Regions from separate parts of the Homo sapiens genome. Here region 2 is linked to region 1. Evidence: fine-mapped expression QTL. A gene starts in region 1. The other region holds a variant in brackets. All regions are shown on one strand. Distances are between the middles of the regions. Region 1 holds the start of CCT4 (chaperonin containing TCP1 subunit 4). Region 2 overlaps USP34 (ubiquitin specific peptidase 34).

Evidence for each region. PIP is the estimated chance that this variant, and not a neighbour inherited with it, causes the effect.
Region 2: its variant is the best candidate, but not a certain one, in a credible set for the expression of CCT4 in nasal epithelium (TOPMed, PIP 0.83).

The regions. Positions count from the first base shown.
Region 1 is chr2:61,885,758-61,890,996 of GRCh38, reverse strand. CCT4 (chaperonin containing TCP1 subunit 4) reads left to right here and starts at 2,341. Exons shown (of 14, transcript NM_006430.4): 1 at 2,341-2,616. The coding sequence starts at 2,490. It also overlaps a transcript of COMMD1 not described here. RefSeq lists enhancers at 1,072-1,631, 2,571-2,650, 2,192-2,751, 2,752-3,313.
Region 2 is chr2:61,280,041-61,285,279 of GRCh38, reverse strand. It overlaps USP34 (ubiquitin specific peptidase 34), which reads left to right. Exons shown (of 80, transcript NM_014709.4): 35 at 323-405; 36 at 1,831-1,871; 37 at 2,011-2,135; 38 at 4,038-4,190; 39 at 4,932-5,036. Among named protein-coding and RNA genes, the nearest start is that of C2orf74-AS1, 100 kb to the right of the region's middle. The variant C/TC (reference allele first, on the strand shown) is at 2,476.

The sequences.
Region 1 (5,239 bases):
CATCACCCACTTGTTTCCAACATATTACATCAGTTGTCTAAACAAATAACCATAGAATTTATGTGCTACTTGGGAGTATTCTGGTCCTCTGAAGAGAAGTCGGCCTCAGAGGTTTATGGATCTTCATTTCCTAGTGCTAATATCCTTCTTTTTTTTTTTTTTTTTTTTTTGAGACAAAGTCTTGCTCTATCACCCAGGCTGGAGTGCAGTGGCGCAATCTCGGCTCACTGCAACCTCCACTTCCTGGCTTCAAGGGATTCTCCTGCCTCAGCCTCCCGAGTAGCTGGGATTACACCCCCGGTTAATGTTTTGATTTTTAGTAGAGACGGGGTTTCGCCACGTTGGCTAGGCTGGTCTTAAACTCCTGACCTAAAGCGATCCACCCACCTCGGCCTCCCAAAGTGCTGGGATTACAGGCGTGAGCTACTGAGCCAGGCCCCTAGTGCTAATATGCTAAATGTGTGTTAAAGAACAACTTGGCGAGGTGGCTCTCGCCAAGCCTGCAATCCTAGCACTTTGGGAAGCCGAGGCGGGCCTATCACCTGAGCTCGGGAGTTCGAAACCACCCTGTCCAACATGGAGAAACCCCGTCTCTACTAAAAATACAAAATTAGCCGGGCATGGTGGTGCATGCCCGTAATCCCAGCTACTGGGGAGGCTGAGGCAGGAGAATCGCTTGAACCCGGGAGGCGGAGGTTGCGGTGAGCCGAGATGGTGCCACTGCTCCAGCCTGGGCAACAAGAGTGAAACTCCGTCTCAAAAACAAACAAAAACAAACAAACAAACAACACCACCACCACCTCATAATTACAAGATTAAGTACCTTTGAACATTTGTTTCTGAACCTACCACACGCAACTGTCACTTTGCAGGTGCTTAATAATTGTGAGCGAACATTCAACAAACCTCATTTCATAAACTTCCCTACTGAAATATAGTGGTCATAGGAGACCAGCAGTTTAGCTCATGGCTTCTGGTCCTTGCTTTGTATTGGAATACTGCTTCTATCTACTGACTCGTTTACCCTGGGCTTCAGTTCCTTCTTTGGGCTCCAGTTCTCTCACCTTTTAAGTAAAGGATTATTGTGAGGACTAAACGAGATATAAAACGTGTAAAGGTTTAGCACTGTGCTTAGCAGATAACGGAAATAAATGATCTTTATTATAATGTTTACGTTCCCTAAGAGTCAGTGGCTACGTCATGCAGGAGACACTAGTGTAGAACAAGCGGGCGGTGGTAACTAGACAGACCTGATTTGGCAGTCTGTCAAACCTCCACCACCCAGTATCAACCAATACGAGATAACTAACCTCGCCTCATTCCAAATCTCCCTTTTCTGACTCCCTTTCAAAATGAACAAAACTGCATAAAATGCAGGTCTATGTGGCCGGGCAAAAACAGACTCAGTCATATCCCTTAGAGAGTTATTCCGGCGCCCACCCCACCTCGCGGATAGATCCAGCCGGAGTTAAAGGAGGGCACCTCCGGGTGGGCGCGGTGGCTCACGCCTGTAATCCCAGTACTTTGAAACGCTGAGGAGGGTGGACCGCTTTGAGCCGGGGAGGTCAGACCAGCCTGGGCAACACAGCGAAACCCAGTCTCGCTATGTTTCGAATACAAAAATTCGCTAGGCATGGTGGCGGGCACCTGTCGTCCTGGCTAGTTGGGAGGCTGTGGCGGGAGGATCGCTTGGGCCCCGGAGGTCGAGGCTGCAGTGAGCCAAGATCGCCCCACTGCACTCCCGCCTGGACGACAGAGCGAGACTCTGTCAAAAAAAAAAAAAAAAAAAAAAAAGGCCGGGCTTCGTGGCTGACGCCTGTAATCCCAACACTTTGGGAGCCCGAGGCGGGTGGATCACCTGAGGTCGGGAGTTCGAGACCGGCCTGGCCAACATGGTGAAACCCTGTCTCTACTAAAAATACAAAAATTAGCTGGGCATGGTGGCGGACGCCTGTAATCCCAGCTACTCGGGAGGCTGAGGAGGATCGCTTGAACCTGGGAGGCGGAGGCTGCAGTGAGCCGAGATTTTGCGCCACTGCACTCCAGCCTGGGCAACAGAGTGAGACTGTATCCAAAAAAAGAAAAAAAAAAAAAAAAAAAGGAGGGGACCTCATAGCCGTGCAAGGTGGAGTGAGGAAATGCGGATGTCCTCACCACTCGCCTTTAAAATCGCGCGTTGTCATTGCTGCCTCGCGTAAAGGTTCCCCCGGCGCTCTTCACCCACAGCGCCCCGGGCGTACAATCTCGCCAGCCCGGAGCCCACCGCACGCATCCTCCTCGCCCGGCGCGCAGCGGACAGCCTCCTACGTCACGCCAGCGCCGCGCGGCAAGGAAGGCCCCCTTCTCCGCCTCCGCCTCCTCCCGACGCCGGCGCCGCTTTCTGGAAGGTTCGTGAAGGCAGTGAGGGCTTACCGTTATTACACTGCGGCCGGCCAGAATCCGGGTCCATCCGTCCTTCCCGAGCCAACCCAGACACAGCGGAGTTTGCCATGCCCGAGAATGTGGCACCCCGGAGCGGGGCGACTGCCGGGGCTGCCGGCGGCCGCGGGAAAGGCGCCTATCAGGACCGCGACAAGCCAGCCCAGATCCGCTTCAGCAACATTTCCGCCGCCAAAGGTATCACTCTCATGGCCTGACCCGCGGCGCCGCGGGGTTGTGCTCTGCGCTCTCATCGTGGGCTTGAGCGGGTTTGGCTCATTTCCCATTTCTTCGGGTGATCCTCTCTTGTCCTCCCTATAGAAGCAGCCCAGTGGAGGGATCCTTATTTCTGTTTTTCTGCCGATGATCGCCAACCCGGAGTATGGAGGCCTTTGGACTTGCCCCATTTTGCATCTTAATCTCCCTTAGTTTTTCATCCTGCACTGTGCATCATTCATATTGGAGCCGAAAGCAGTTCAAAATGCCGAGGATTGCATGCAGTCTTCACTAGGGATCTGACGCTTGAGGGCTGTCGCTTATTGCTTATTGGAACTGGTAGAATGCACAGTATCTTTCAGCTTTGTTATTCTTATTTAAAGAACTATTAAATAAACTTCACTTGGCACAACTGTTGAGACGAATTGGGTGAACTCTCCGAGTCTAAATTGGGGCGGGGCCCATTGTACTGGGATGGATGTGGGAACCGACTTACGTGTCGTGTTTGAAATAGTTGCGGAAAAGTTACGTTGATGTCGTCTCCGCATGTGCAGTGAAACATAGGCAAATCAAGAAACAATTATTTGTTTTTTTTGTGGAAGTGTGTGGCACACGTTGGAAATCAGGAAGACCAGAGTTTCATTCTCTGCTTCCGTTACTTCATGTCTTAGTGACCTGTAACCTCTGTGCCAAAGATTCACTTATAAAATTGGAGGAAAATGTTTGCTTTTTAGAGTTAAGATTAAGAGAAATCGAGTTGAAATAGAAAAATCTGGAAGGAAAAGTCAGGACAGAGGTTTAGAGATCTTGCCCGAGTGTATATTGAGTATAGTAGTTCTTTTGGGTTGGAGAATAGTAGTATGTTTACAGAAGAGGTGAGATTAGAAAGCTAGGTTGGGGCAGATGTTAAAGGCCTGGTGTCCTGGAAAGTATTTGGCTTAATCTCCCCCAGCTATGGGATCATTTCTTTTTAGCCATCGTGTAGGCTTGCTGTGAGGATTCAGTGAGAAAGCATATAAAGACCCACGTATATAAAGTACACCTTACATGTGTTTGCAGTCATCAGCCCAAGTAACTGGGAATGTGATGGCGCTAAGATAGGTAACGCTGGATGTAAGAAAAAGTAATAGTTTCTAACTTGTCCTAATGAGTTGGAAAGGTCAGAATGGCCAGATTTAGGAGTCATTTGTAAGTTTAGGAGATAATACACCTGGAAACGAAGGTTTGTAGGATAATTGTCTAGGGACCATAGTTGAAGCTTACATTTATTAGATTAGGAACAGAATGTTGAAAGATAAATTTTGGGTCGGGCAGGGTGGCTCACGTCTGTAATCCCAGCAATTTGGGAGGCTGAGGCTGGCGGATCACATGAGGTCAGGAGTTCAAGACCAGCCTGACCAACATGGAGAAACCCCGTCTCTACTAAAAATACAAAATTAGGTGGGTGTGTTGGCGTAGGCCTGTAGTCCCAGCTACTCGGGAGGCTGAGGCAGGGGAATAGCTTGAACCTGGGAGGCGGAGGTTGCCGTGAACTGACGTCGCGCCATTGCACTCCAGCCAGGGTGACGAGCGAAACTCCGTCTCAAAAAAAAAAAAAGATAAATTTGGGGGCCAAGAGAGTTTATAATATGGTTGATATTCAACAAACAAAATAAGTGGGAAATTTAGCAACCTTTGAAACAAAAGCAGACAAAGAACTGAAACAACAGAGGAGGGTGTGCATGTGGGAAGGAAAGGCCACCTAAGTTATCTGTGAAGATGACCCGTTATGTCTTAAACTCCTGGCCTCAAGTGACGGCCTGCCTTGGCTTCGCAAAGCGCTGGGATTACAGGCGTGAGCCACCGCACCCGGCCCCAGAGATGTTTTATAACATACTGATGATGACCAAAAGCTATGATTTGAGAGTTTTGGTTTTTGTTTGGTTTGTTAGGTTTGGTTTGTTTGTTGAGATGGAGTCTGTCTTGCTCTGTCCCCCAGGCTGGAGTGCAGTGGTGTGATCTCTGCTCATTGCAACTTCTGCCTCCTGGGTTCAAGCGGTTCTCCTGCCTCAGCCTCCCGAGTAGCTAGCTGGGACTACAGATGCGCACCGCCACACCCGGCTCATTTTTGTATTAGTAGAGGCAGGGTTTCGCCATGTTGTCCAGGCTGGTCTCGAACTCCTGACCTTAGGTGGTCTGCCCGCCTCAGCCTCTCAAAGTGCTGGTATTACAAGTGTGAGCCATCACGCCCAGCCTTGTTGGATTTTTTAGAAGAGTATCTTGCTCTGTAGCATTTCCATTGTGGTTTGCCCTTTTGGCGGTGTTGGCGGGCCACCTATCTACCATGTTCACATTAGTGAACAAAAGTCTTTGCTCTCAGAGATTACATACTAGACAGAGTAAACAAATAAGTGAATTATCTGTAAATTGAGCATTCCTAATTTGAAATACTCCAAAATTCAAAACACTTCTGGTCCTAATCATTTTGGAAAAAGGATACTCCTCCATCAGTATTTTAGATCTAGACAGTTCTGTTGCTGCTTGTCCTGTTTTAGGAATGGAGGAAATAGCAATTCTCAGAGCTCCTAACTAGATTGTACCATTTTGACATCTGAAGGAAGATGAG
Region 2 (5,239 bases), 610 kb after region 1:
TGGGCTCAAGCAATCCACCCACCTGAGCCTCCCTAATTGCTGGGATTACAGCAATTACAGTGAGCCACCATACCCAGCCTACAGTTGCTGCTCTTAAGTGTGATTATAAAATTCTGGTTTTCCGATTCTTGGCATTTTTACAGTATTTTCAAAGAATTCTTACGACATTCTTTATTGTGTTATAGATAAATATCAAAATAATTTGGAATTTTGGGTTAAAATTTTGTAATACACATCTCTTTAGTAACTAAATCTTGAGTGCTTTTTGAGGGTTTTCCTTTTGCTGTATTTAAATATCTTTTAAAATGTTTTTGTTTTAAAGGTATTTCTTGTTCTTGTCCAAGGAACCAGTTTGATTCAGCGACTTATGTCTGTTGCTTATACGTATGATAATCTGGCTCCTAGGTATGCATTTTAAGATATATTTTATGTGTGTATGTATAGCAGGAATATAATGTTTTAAAACTTTATTTTGAAAAATTCTAAACTTAATAGAAAAATTTGGGGGATATTATGATGAAATCTCTCATACCTTCCATCCAAATTTACGTATTATTAACCTGTTGCTAAAATGTGTCTTGTATTTATGAGTCACGTATTTTCTGTGTGTTTACATGTTTTCCTGAATCTTCTGAGACTGAATTGCAGATATCATGACTGTTCACCAGTACTTTGTTGTGTATCTCCTAAGACCAAGGAGATTTTCTTAATAGCTAGAGTAAAATTTTTAAATTTATAGAATTTAACATTGATATGTTATCTAACATATAGTTCATATTAAAATAATCCTATTGGTATTCTTTATAGCAGTATTTTTCTTGCTTCAGGATCAACTAAATGTATTGCATTTAGTTGTCAGTTCTTCTGTTTCTTTTCATCAGAGATAACTTTCTCAGCCTTTCTCTCATGATACATTTTCAAGTAATGCAGGCCAGTTATTTTATAGAGTACTTTTCAGTTTGAGTTTTCATGATTAGCCTTCATGATTAGATTCAGATTATGTATTTTTTAAAGGAGTCTTAAAGTTTAGACTCTAAATCATTATAACCTATGTGTTTGTCACACACATCTCTTTAGTAACTAAATCATGAGCACTTCTTGAGGGTTTACTTATTTCAGTCAATGTTTTATTCATTCAAATTTTGTTTATTAAATCTGAAGTCATTTCGTATTTGCTGTAATAAGATTTTACCAGTGATTCTTTTATTTGGTTTGTTTTTTATTTTGAAACATACAATATATTTTTATTGACTAGACACCCTGCTGTGTAATAGATTTCAAAACTTCCTGCTCTATCTGGAACTTCATACCCTTTGACTTATACCCTCTGCCCCACCCCACCCTACCCTACCCCACCCTCCAGCCTCTGGTAACCATTATTCTACTCTCTTCTTCAATGAGTTTGACTCTTCTTCAGTGAGTCTTTAAATAAATGATAAAGAATATAAAACAAATAAATAATGGAGCTCTCTTAAAATATAGTCTCTTTTGCAAAAATTAGCTGAGTGTGGTGGCACATGCTTGTAGTCCCAGCTATTGGGAGGCTGAGGTGGGAGGGTTGCTTGAGCCTGGAAGGTCAAGGCTGCAGTGAGCCATGATCATGCCACTGCACTCCAGCCTGGGCAACAGAGTGAGACCCTGTCTCCTGTCTTTTAAAACACACACACACTCACACTCTCTCTCACTCTCACTCTCACTCTCACTCACACACCCACTGCTTTCCTTTTTTGGGGGGGAAGTGATAACCTTAAAGGATATATGTTAATAAATTGAATTATTTTTAATTCATTGCTGAATTTAATTGGTGGTGGTGGTGTTTTTACTTTACAGAGTTTTAAAAGCTCAGTCTGATCACAGGTCTAGACATGAAGGTAAGGGTTCCACAAAGTTAACTTTTAATAAATAAAAACTTGAATAATATATTGATATATTTTACCTTTAATATTGAACATTGTGTTTTCATTTTAGCACAAACCTTTTATAGTGAACTGTTTTCTAATTTTTCTTTAGTTTCACATTATTCAATGTGGCTCTTGGTGAGTTGGGCTCATTGCTGTTCTTTAGTGAAATCTAGCCTTGCTGATAGCGATCATTTACAAGATTGGCTAAAGAAATTGACTCTCCTTATTCCTGAGGTAAGATAAAGATTGAAGGTTAGTACTGTTATTTTTTGTATGTTTTCATGTTATTAGCATTGATAATAAAAGAGCTAATGGAAACAAATATGCGTGAGTCCATAAATATATCACATTATCTGCTTAATCCTTTAAGGTCTAGAGTGTTTTGAACTATGTACAATGTTTAAGAACTTCTGACTATTATATATTATGTAGCATTTATATTTTTCTGAAATGTTTATAGAATGATTATTTTGCTTTGGATTAATAAAAAAAAGTTTTTCCAGGTAGTAGGAAGGGCTTGAGAATTTATTTTGGTAATTTATGTTTTAGAAAAGTTCTGTGGCCTTTTTTTTTT[C/TC]TTTCTTTGAGACAGAATCTCCCTGTTCCCTGTATCACCCAGGCTAGAGTGTAGTGGTGCAATCAAGGCTCCCTGCAGCCTCAACCTCCTGGGAACAAGCGATCCTCTGGCTTCAGCCTCCCAAGTAGCTGGGACCATAGGTGCACATCACCATGCCCAGCTAGTTTTTTAACTTTTTTGTAGAGACGGGGTCTCGCTGTGTTGTCCAGGTTGGTCTTGAACTCCTGGTGTCATGTAATGCTCCTGCCTCGGCCTCCCAAACTGCTTGGGATTATAGGCATGAGCCGCTGCACCCAGCCTGTGTTTTCTATTTAAGTAGAAATAGAGGCTAGAGAGACTACAAATAAATAAAAGAAATATATTTTGCTTCCCATGTTGACACTGAGGCCAATATAATTTTTATTAGCTGTATCTTGGCATTACTCACCTCATATTCCTATGTGAAATAATAGAAACACACAGTAATATATTTAGCTCCAAAGTCACTTATTTTTTAAACCTGCGTTGTCTAATAATATTAGCTCTGGCTGGGCACTGTGGCTCACGCCTGTAATCACAGGCCGAGGTGGGTGGATCACATGAGGTCAGGAATGCAAGACCAGCCTGGCCAACATGGTGAAACCCTATCCCTACTAAAAATACAAAAAATTAGCTGGGTATGGTGGCAGGCACCTGTAATCTCAGTTACTCGGGAGGCTGAGGCAGGAGAATCGCTTGAACCCAGGAGGCAGAGGTTGCAGTGAGCCAAGATCGCACCACTGCACTCCAGCCTGGAAGACAGAGCAAGACTCTGTCTTAAAAACAAAACAAAACAAAACAAAATTAGTTCTGGATATAATGTCATTTGTGTTCTAGTCCTGTCTCAGGTAACCATTTTGACATTTGGACAGTTTGCTTACAATCTATAGAATATTCCGATTGAAGTTGCTTCTGTGTTGCTTCTAGTTCTGAAAATATTTTATCCTCTTACTGACTTGTAAATAACTTAAATGATTCTAAATGTCCTTACTCAATTATTCTTTGTATTTACCTGTTGTCATTATTTTGTTTTGTTTCTGTTTTTATGGCCATGCTTTAGGATTTCTAAAACACTGTATTTATATATTATGGTATACCTTGAGATACTTTATTTGATCATGTGTAATTTACATATATATATGTATGGGATTAGAACATTATATTTATTAATTATTTTTATGAGGCATAATCTTGTTCTGCCACCCAGTCTGGAGAGCAGTGGCATATCAGCTCACTGCAGACTCTGCCTCCCTGGTTCAAGCAATTCTTGTGCCTGTCTCCAGAGTAGCTGGGACTACAGGCGCAAGTCACCACACCCGGTTAATTTTTGTATTTTTTGTGGTGACAGGGTTTTGCCATGTTGGCCAGGCTGGTCTCAGATACCTGGCCACAGGTTATCCTCCTGCCTGGGCCTCCAAAAGTGCTGGGATTACAGGCTTGCCCGGCAGAACATTGTATTTAAAATCACCTAAAATTATTTCTGCTAACATATTAACTTTGTAATACTAACTCTCACTGTTTGTGGAACTTTCTTTTTCATCTAGACTGCAGTTCGTCATGAATCATGCAGTGGTCTCTATAAGTTATCCCTGTCAGGGCTGGATGGAGGAGACTCAATCAATCGTTCTTTTCTGCTATTGGCTGCCTCAACATTATTGAAATTTCTTCCTGATGCTCAAGCACTCAAACCTATTAGGGTAAGATTTTACTGTGTTTAGAAGCAGTTTCTATTTTTGAAATTTCCTTTGCCTCAGTTTACCGTTGTAATATATCCTTAAAATTTTGATCATTTGACTACTGTATGTGATTTTTTACCAAGAGGATAGTAGTTATATACTACTTAAGGTGACAGCATTGTGACACATTGTGTCCATGTTACTACTAGGAAGAGACTGATTTCAGCTCTGTGGTCTCTCATGGATACTCTATTTTAGAAATAGCATTTATTCTCACTCGGTTCTGGGCCTTGTGTTAATAAGTTGACTAATAAAAAATCATAAATGGAGCTCTCTTCTCTAGTAAGTCACAGTTTTCTTTTTATCTTTATGATATTCAGAATTTTAAATTTTATTTCCTACCCTAGTTCATATACTAGTCTTTAAAAGGCTTCTAATACATAATAAATTTAGAGCCCACTTTTTACTAACCCCAGAAATTCAGTGTGTTGTTGGATTTACATTATTTTCCTCCCTGTTCATATCTTTTTTAATGTCAGTAATTTGAGACTAATATTTTCCTAAAAGTTCTTACGTTTGTCATTTTTTTGCCTGGTTATTCTGATTTTACAGAAACTAAGCGTGTACTCCATTTTTAAAAAGATTTTGAATACTGTTTAGTGGATATAGGAATTTATTTCATAAAGCCTCTAGTTTCTTAAATGTATTATAATTTTATTTATTTTTAAAATGTTTTCACAAAGTATAAAATTTTTTTAATAGATAGATGATTATGAGGAAGAACCAATATTAAAACCAGGATGTAAAGAGTATTTTTGGTTGTTATGCAAATTAGTTGACAACATACATATAAAGGACGCTAGTCAGGTATGTTCAGAAAATTATATACTATTCTATGTATTCTCTTCTTGTTAATATGAATTATGACATATGTTCATGACTTTATTGGTTATTAAGTGTACTTCATTAATCTATAACTTGGTGGTGGTGTCCTATTTCTACTATATTTGTGCTTTTCCACCTTCTTCTAATTCCTTTCGTGTTTTTACTCAGACCTTAGTTGAAACGTC